Regions from separate parts of the Homo sapiens genome. Here region 2 is linked to region 1. Evidence: fine-mapped expression QTL. A gene starts in region 1. The other region holds a variant in brackets. All regions are shown on one strand. Distances are between the middles of the regions.

Region 1 (4,253 bases):
TTAAACAAACTATACCATATTCACCCATTCATCAATTGATATACCCTAGGATTGCTTCCACTTTGGGCTATTATGAATAATATTACTAAGAACACACATGTTTTTGTGTGGACATATGCTTTCATTTCTCTTGGCTATATATCTAAAAGGGGGATTTGCCGAGTGTTGTGTTAACTCTAACCTTTCAGGAACTGCCAGCCTGTTTTCCATAGCGAGTGTAGCCTCTTACATTCCCACCAGCAGGAGAGAGATTCCCGTTTCTCCACACCCCTGCTGACGCTTGTCTTTTTGATTACAGCCATCGTAGGAGGTGTGATGTGGCATCTATTTGTAGTTTTGATTTGCATCTCCCTAATGCCTAATAATGTTGAGCATTTTTAATTTCTGTTTTGCCCAGGCTGGTCTGGAGTTCCTGGCCTCTCAGCGCTGGGGTCACAGGCGTAAGCCTCTACCAGTTGAGCTGAGCATCTTCTGGTGCTTATTGGCCATTTGCATAATGCACTGGAAAAATATTCATATCCTTTGTGCATTTTTCAATTGTCTTTTTATTGTTGAGTTGTAAGTTTCCTCCATTCTAGATACAATTCCCTTATCAGATATGTAACTTACAAATATTTTCTCCCGTTCTGTGGGTGGACTTTTAATTTTCTTGATGGTGTCCTTTAAAGCACCGAAGTTTTTGTTTTGTTTTGAGATGGAGTCTCGCTCTGTCGCCAGGCCAGAGTTCAGTGGCACGATCTCGGCTCACTGCAACCTCCGCCTCCCGGCTTCAAGCGATTCTCCTGCCTCAGCCTCCCGAGTAGCTGGGATTAGAAGCAGGCGCCGCCAAACCCAGCTAATTTTTGTATTTTTAGTAGAGAGACGGGGTTTTACCATGTTGGCCAGGATGGTCTAGATCTCCTGATCTCATGATCTGCCCACCTCGGCCTCCCAAAGTGCTGGGATTTCAGGCGTGAGCCACCGCGCCCGGCCGCAGTAAAGTTTTTAATCTGATGAAGTTTAATTTATTCTTCTGTAGTCGCTCCTGCCTTTAGTGTCACTGCCTCGCCCAAGGTCTCAAAGATCTCCTGTCGGCTTCCAAGTGTTTTTTTTTTTTTTTTTTTTTTTTGAGACGGAGTCTCGCTCTGTCGCCTAGGCTGTAGTGCAGTGGCGCAATCTCGGCTCACCGCAAGCTCCGCCTCCCGGGTTCAAGCGATTTTCCTGTCTCAGCCTCCCGAGTAGCTGGGATTACAGGCGCCCGCCACCACGCCCGGCTAATTTTTTTTTTTTTTTTTGTAGAGACGGGGTTTCACCATGTTGGCCAGGATGGTCTCGAACTCCTGACCTCGTGATTCACCCGCCTCGGCCTCCCAAAGTGCTGGGATTACAGGCGTGAGCCACCGCGCCCGGCCTTTTTTTTTTCTTTTTTCTTTCTTTCTTTCTTTTTTTTTTTTTTGATACGGGGTCTCGTCGCTCTGTCGCCCAGGGTGGAGTGCAATGGCGTGATCTTGGCTCAATGCAACCTCCGCCTCCCGGGTTCAAGCGATTCTCCTCTAGGATTACGGGCGCCTGCCACCACGCCCGGATAATTTCTTCTAATTTTTAGTAGAGATGGGGTTTCACTATGTTAGCTAGGATGGTCTCGATCTCCTGACCTCGTGATCCGCCCGCCTCGGCCTCCCAAAATGCTGGGATTACAGGCGTGAGCCACCGCGCCCCGCCCAAGTGTTATTTGTAAAACGAAGAAACCAACATCGAGAGGGACGCTGACTCGACCCCGCGCCTTTCCCATCCGCACCAGCAAGAGGGGCCCCTGTGCCCCAAACGCGAACCGTACGGCTCCAGACAGCACCGCGGAACTCGGTGGCTTCCAGAAGGCCCCGCGCCTGCGCATTCCGCTGCCTGCGCCTGCGCCTGCGCCTGCGCCGTTCTCCCGGCCGCCGCCTTAGCACCTCCTCCGGACGGTGTCGCCGAAGTCTCGCGAGCCCGGAGCGTGGCACGTGGGTTGGTAACTGTGGCGCTGCTCCGCGTCCACCACCACCCCTGTCCTCCTCAGGCCCCCTCCGCCTCCACCCCTGCCCTCCTCAGGCCCCCTCCGCCTCCACCCCTGCCCTACTCAGGCCCCCTCCGCCTCCACCCCTGCCCTCCTCAGGCCCCCTCCGCCTCCACCCCTGCCCTCCTCAGGCCCCCTCCGCCTCCACCCCTGCCCTCCTCAGGCCCCCTCCGCCTCCACCCCTGCCCTCCTCAGGCCCCCTGCGTCCCCGCCTCGTCCTCCTCAGGCCCCCTCCGCCTCCGGCTCCGTCCTCCTCAGGCCCCCTCCGCCTCCGGCTCCGTCCTCCTCTGGCCCCCTCCGCCCCCGGCCCCGGCCCCACGGCGGGATGCGGGACAACACCAGCCCCATCAGCGTGATTCTGGTGAGCTCGGGGAGCAGGGGCAATAAGCTGCTGTTCAGGTACCCCTTCCAGAGAAGCCAGGAGCACCCGGCGTCCCAGACAAGTAAGTGAGCGCTGGGCGGGGGCCTGGCGCTCGCGGGGGCCGCCTCATTCCGGGGTCGCCTCATTCCAGGGCCGCCTCGCGGAGCTTAGCTTTTGCTGGGCATTCGAGATCTGCTCGTTGTAGAGTATTTGAAAAGTAGAAAAAGGAAAAAAAAAATTAAAATCATGCATTGTTCACCACACCAAAGCAACTACTGCTGACATTTCATCAGTCTCCAGCCTTTAAAAAATAAAGTAAAATAAAATAAAATGAGTTTGGGATGTATTCATCATGAGAAAATACAAAATTACACGAACAAGGCCGGTGGCGGTAATCCCAGCACTTTGGGAGGCCGAGGCGGGTGGATCACCTGAGGTCAGGAGTTCGAGACCAGCCTGGCCAACATGGTTGAAACTCTGTCTCTACTGAAAAAATAAAAATAAAAAAAAACAAATTAGCCGAGCGTGGTGGTGCGTGCCCATAATCCTAGCTACTTGGGAGGCTGAGGCAGGAGAATTGCTTGAACCCGGGAGGCGGAGGTTTCAGTGAACCGAGATCGCGCCACTGGATTCCAGCCTGGGCAACAGAGCAAGACTCCGTCTCAAAAAAAAAAAAAAAAGTTACGTGAACATCTGAAGTTGTCTTTGCCACCCCCAGTTCTAGCAAGCACAGGGATCACCCCTGGCCGTGTTGGGAGTTGTCTGCCCTGTGCATAGATGCAGATCTATCCACAGGAAAAGGGAACGTCGCGTGAGGTTTTTCATCGCACGAATTGTTCTGTGGCGCCCTTTTCCCATAGTCGGCCTTGGAGCTCCGTCTGCCTTTGCAAGCAGGGATCAACCTCACCCTTGGCTGCAGGCTGCTGCCTTCCCCTGTGGACGGCATGTAGGTTACTTTTGATTTTTCATCATCATGAATGTTCAGTTTTTGTTTTTATTTTATTTATTTTTTGAGACGGAGTCTCACTCTGTCGCCCAGGCTGGAGTTGAGTGGCGTGATCTCGGCTCACTGCAGCCTCCACCTCCCGGGCTCAAGGGATTCTCCTGCCTCAGCCTCCCAAGTAGCTGGGGCTACAGGGCATGTGCACCACACCCTGCAATTTTTTTTTTTTTTTTTTTTTTTTTTAGTAGAGATGGGGTTTTGCCATGTTGGCCAGGCTGATCTCGAACTCCTGGCCTCAAATGATCTACCTGCCTCGGCCTCCCAAAGTACTGGGATTACAGGTGTGAGCCACCGCACCCGGACTGTTCAGTTTTTATTTTGTATTTTGTTTTAAAATTATTTTTAAACTTGTTGATATGGCAGAAAGTTTTAAAGATACAAAGGAGTTTAGATTATGAAAAGAAAGTTCTTTCCTACTATTGGCCCCCAGCCCTCAGTTTCCATCATAGGGGTAACTACTGTTCCCATTTTTCTGTGTCTTTCCAGGACCTTCTGTGTCAATACAGGCGTATGTATTTCTTTTTTCTTTTTTTTTTTTTTTGAGACGAGTCTTGCAGTCTTGCCAGGCTGGAGTGCAGTGGCGTGATCTCGGCTCACCGCAACCTCCGACCCCCTGTCAAGCAATTCTCCTGCCTCAGCCTCCCGAGTAGCTGGGACTACAGGCATGCGCCACCATGCCCAGCTAATTTTTTTTTTTATTTTTAGTAGAGATGGGGTTTCACCATGTTGGCCAGGCTGGTCTCCAACTCCTGACCTTGTGATCCGCCCGCCTTGGCCTCCCAAAGTGCTGGGATTACAGGCGTGAGCCACCGCGCCCAGCCTGCACTTGTGTTTTTTTTCTAAGCACAAGCAAAGTC
Region 2 (4,500 bases), 46 kb after region 1:
GCCATGTCGGGGTTGGCGGAGCCATTGGGGGCACTACTCGCACAATCTTGGCTCACTGCAACCCCCACCTCCCAGGTGCAAGCAATCCTCCTGTCTCAGCCTCCAAGTAGCTGGGACTACAGGCATGTGCCGCAGTGCCTGGCTAATTAAATAAAAATTTTTGGCAGAGATGAGGGTCTCACTATATTGCCCAGGTTGGTCTCGAACTCCGAGGTTCAGGCGATCCTCCTGCCTTGCCCTCCCAAAATGCTGGGACTACAGGCATGAGCCACTCACTCAGTCTGGAGGCCCTGTTTTCTGAGCTGAGGTATAAGTGTCCTCAGCAGCAGGGCAGCACGGTGTCCAGGCAGGGGTGACTCACCTCCACAGAGGCCTACCCGCCAAGAGGGTGGAGTGGTGTCCTGGGCTGATGCAGAGGCAGAAGTGCGAGAGCTTAGGATTTCACACACCTTTTCGTGAAGTGCTGGGGTGCTGTGCTCTCAGACCTCAGGCCTGAGCTTTCCTCTGGAAGGGGTTTGGGTTGTGTTTGTGTTTCCTGATGTTCAAGGGTCCACAAGAGCAAAGCTGGGAGGGGGGTCTCTGTGGGAGTCGGGGCACATGGGGCAGACCTGGGGCCTTTGGGTATGTAGGGGTGGCATGCTGAGTGACTCCACACCCATCATCGGGCAAGGCCATGCTGGAGTTTTAGGGGGTATAAGAGGGCTGTGCCCCTGCCAGGACATCCAGCTAAGCCCCCTGCCCAGCTGGGCCAGCACTGTGTTCCCAGCACCCCAGACATTCCCATGCTTGTGGCCTGAGACCACCATTCTTCAGTGGGAGTCAAGACAGCATAGGATGGGAAAACAGTGCCACCAAACAGCACAGGGAGCAGTGACAAAAAGGCCATTGTGGCCGGGTGCGGTGGCTCATGCCTGTAATCCCAGCACTTTGGAAGGCCAAGGTGGGTGGATCACGAGGTCAGATCGAGACCATCCTGGCCAACATGGTGAAACCCTGTCTCTACTAAAAATACAAAAATTAGCTGGGCGTGGTGGCATGTGCCTGTAATCCCAGCTACTCAGGAGGCTGAGGCAGGAGAATCGCTTGAACCTGGGAGGCAAGAGGTTGCAGTGAGCTGAGATTGTGCCACTGCACTCCAGCCTGGGCGACAGAGCAAGACTGTCTCCAAAAAAAAAAAAAAAAAAACCATTGCTCACAGAAAGTGCTGTGTGCTGGCTGTGCCCCACATCCTAGTGAGAGGTTGCGAAGGTGCTATTCCACGTTAGGGAGGAAGTCTCGGGCCATAGCCACCAGGTGTGTTCTGCATGAGGCTGGGGCCAGCTTCTCCAGGCTGGTAGGCCATGGCCACCCAGGCTGAGAGCTGCTGACAGCTCCCGGTGGGCCAGCCTCAGGCATGGTCCTTGCAGCTTCCCTTTTGCCTGCAGGTTTTCCAGCTTGCAGCTCATCTGGTGTACTGGGGCAAGGCCATCATCATCTACCCGCTGTGTGAGAACAACGTCTACATGCTGTCTCCCAATGCCAGCGTATGTCTGTGAGTGCTGCTGGCTGCCAGAGCCTGGAGCCCCGAGTGGGAAGGGGTGAGGCTGGCAGGGCCCTCCAGATGCTGTTCTCTGTGTTGGCCAGGCACCAAAGGCTGTGGAAGCCCCAAGGCCAGGCTCTCACTTCAGCCTAACTCCTGGCCACTAGCATACCCAGGTCCCAATTCTGGTCTGGCTCTGTGCTCTGTGGCTCTCCTGTGTCCCCCATATGCCTGGCCCCCTCCTCCAGGCTGGCTCTTCTAATCCACCTTGAGGGATCAGAGGTGAGATGCAGGATGAACTGTGCCCATGGCTCCTGCTGCTGCTCAAGGGGAAGTGCCCAGGCTCTGTCCACCTGGAGGCCTGCCTGGCCTCATACCGTTCTGCCCTCATCGCACTGTCCTG[A/G]CCCACCTGCCACACTTTGCTTCTCTGCTGCCCACTGAGGCCAGTGTTGAGAACACGGTGGGGGGGTCTGCTGCACTCACTGGCATGCTCACCTGCCTGCAGGTACTCCCCGCTGGCCGAGCAGTTCTCCCACCAGTTCCCATCTCATGACCTGCCGTCCGTTCTTGCCAAGTTCTCCTTGCCGGTCTCCTTGTCAGAATTTAGGAATCCCCTGGCCCCCGCTGTGCAGGAGGTGAGTCACAGAAGCTCAAGGAGCCCAGAGTGGCAGGTGTGTAGTGGATAGGCACTACCTGCCTGGCTGTTGGTTCTGATCTGAGAGCCCTCAGCACTGCCACCTGCTTCTCCTTGGTTTTGGGGGCTTGCCGTGCAAGTGCTACGTGCCCAGCAGGACCCAAAAGTCAGCTGCCGGGCCACCTGCAGATGCTTGGCCAGTGACCCAACACTTGAGCAGTTGTTCCCTCCCCATAGAGCCCACCCTGGCTGTGGCAGGCAGTTTTTAGTGTTAGAACCGAGTTAAGCAGGAGAGTGCTTACCTTTTCTGGGCCTACAGACCTGCCTTGTACCCCTTTGGGACTGGGGACTGCCTACAGATGAGGGTGCAAAGGCAGTTTTGTTCTCACTGGGCCAGGCCTGACCCTCTGAGAGTTCTGCTTCTGTCTTCACTCCCTGCCATGGTTCAGGTGGCCACAGGGTCTGTGGGTATGAGTTCTGGGGTCACTGGTCCCCAGAATCTCCTCATTCAAGAGAGCCTAGAGAGGACCCTAGTGGGCCTGGATCAGGGCAACGGGCAGGCAGGTTGGGAGCTAGGAGTGGCTGGGGGATAGGAGGCCTCCTGCAGGTCTGTGGGATGAACTGGTGCACCTGCATCTGTGGCAGGGCCAGTGGCTTCCCCTGTGGGCTGCAGGTGTCATAGCCTTGTGCTGAGGTGGCTTTGCCATCCTCCCCTCCACTGAGTTCTGGGCAGAGACTCAGAGCAGGGCCAGATAGGATACGGTGTTGGAGACAGACGAGCTGGGTGTTCTCAAGTCTTTGTCTCCAGAAGTATCTGAGTAAGTGCCAGATCTATTAGGCAAAACCAGTCCTTAAAGTTAAACCCTTTCCGTTCTCAAATTACGAATGAGAACGATTCTGGCTTTTCAGCTCCGTTAGACGCTAAACCTGACAGAGCTCTCAGTGCGGTCTTTCACAGAGCCCTTGGTTTCTGGGAGCTGAGCCAGGTTGTACCAGCTGAATAAAAGGCACTCTCTGCACCCCTGCTCTTGGGGCAGTGCTTAGGGAGGAGCTGCTGGTGCTCCCTTCTCAGAGGCCTCCTGTGGTCTAGATAACGGAGTGGCTTTTCCAGGCCATGACTGAGTGGTTGCTCCAGGCCTTGTCAAGGGGCCTAGGTCAGCCAGGTTCTGCCTGGGCTCCAGTGCTGGGAAGCCCCTCTGTTTTATTTTTGGTTTATTGATTTTATTTAATTTTGATTGCACGTCAGGCTGGAGTGCAATGGCATGATCTCGGCTCACTGCAACCTTTGCCTCCCGGGTTCAAGCAATCTCCTGCCTCACCCTCCCGAGTAGCTGGGTTTACAGGTGCCCGCCACCACGCCTGGCTAATTTTTTGTATTTTTAGTAGAGACGGGGTTTCACCGTGTTGACCAGGGTGGTCTCTAACTCCTGACCTCAGGTGATCCACCCACCTCATCCTCTCAAAGTGCTGGGATTACAGGCATGAGCCACTACGCCCAGCTTTTTTTTTATTGTTTTGATATAGAAACTTGCTTTGTTGTCCAGGCTGAAGTACAGTGGCGTGATCTTGGCTCACTGCAACCTCCGCCTCCCAGGTTCAAGTGATTCTCCTGCCTCAGCCTCCCAAGTAGCTGGGATTACAGGTGTGTGCCACCACACCCGGCTAATTTTTGTATCTTTAGTAGAGATGAGGTTTCACTGTGTTGGCAAGGCTGGTCTCGAACTCCTGAGCTCAAGTGATCCACCCGCGTCTGTTTTATTTCTTAAATTCATGTGAAGTCTGGATATCTTGCAGTCCTTTTGACCAAGTCTTCTTACTTGCCTGGGATATATCCCCCATTCCCATCCCCAGTTCCCCAGCCCCCTCCCAGGAGGTGACCCTGGCCAGCAGCTCCTTGTTGACCCTCCCAGAGATGAGTAGACAGATGTGTATCTGAGGACACTGATGTGTCTCACACTCCTTACTGTTCAACGCCTGAGTCTGGGCAGTACTTTCTCATGGGGACTGGACTCTACCTGGCACAAGGCTCCTCACTGCTCCTCACTGCCAGCCCCACCTGCTAACCCAGAGACATTGGAGGGCCTGGCCAGGACGTGCCTTCTCACGGTGGGGGTGGGGGTGGGGTGCTCCACCCCCAAGCCCAGGGTCACTGGCCTCAGCTTTCTTGTGGATCCACTCTTGTGCTCAGGGTGGACTTTCAGGTAGATCCAAGGAGAGGACTTTCTGCTCTCAGGGTACCTGCCCACAGCCTCTTTTTAAACAGTGTCTGGGCTTGTGTGGAGGTGGACTTGCTGGCTGGGTCCAACTCCAGGGCCAGTGGGCCAAAGAAGAGAGGAGGCAGAGGGGC

What was found. PIP is the estimated chance that this variant, and not a neighbour inherited with it, causes the effect. A credible set is the group of variants that fine-mapping cannot tell apart.
Region 2: its variant is the best candidate, but not a certain one, in a credible set for the expression of NPRL3 in whole blood (INTERVAL, PIP 0.78).

What each region holds. Positions count from the first base shown.
Region 1 is chr16:136,372-140,624 of GRCh38, reverse strand. It overlaps NPRL3 (NPR3 like, GATOR1 complex subunit), which reads left to right and starts at 1,952. Exons shown (of 14, transcript NM_001077350.3): 1 at 1,952-1,983; 2 at 2,291-2,475. The coding sequence starts at 2,358. RefSeq lists an enhancer at 2,023-2,072 and a silencer at 2,293-2,522.
Region 2 is chr16:90,250-94,749 of GRCh38, reverse strand. NPRL3 (NPR3 like, GATOR1 complex subunit) reads left to right here. Exons shown (of 14, transcript NM_001077350.3): 10 at 1,425-1,531; 11 at 2,025-2,154. Among named protein-coding and RNA genes, the nearest start is that of MPG, 14 kb to the right of the region's middle. The variant A/G (reference allele first, on the strand shown) is at 1,923.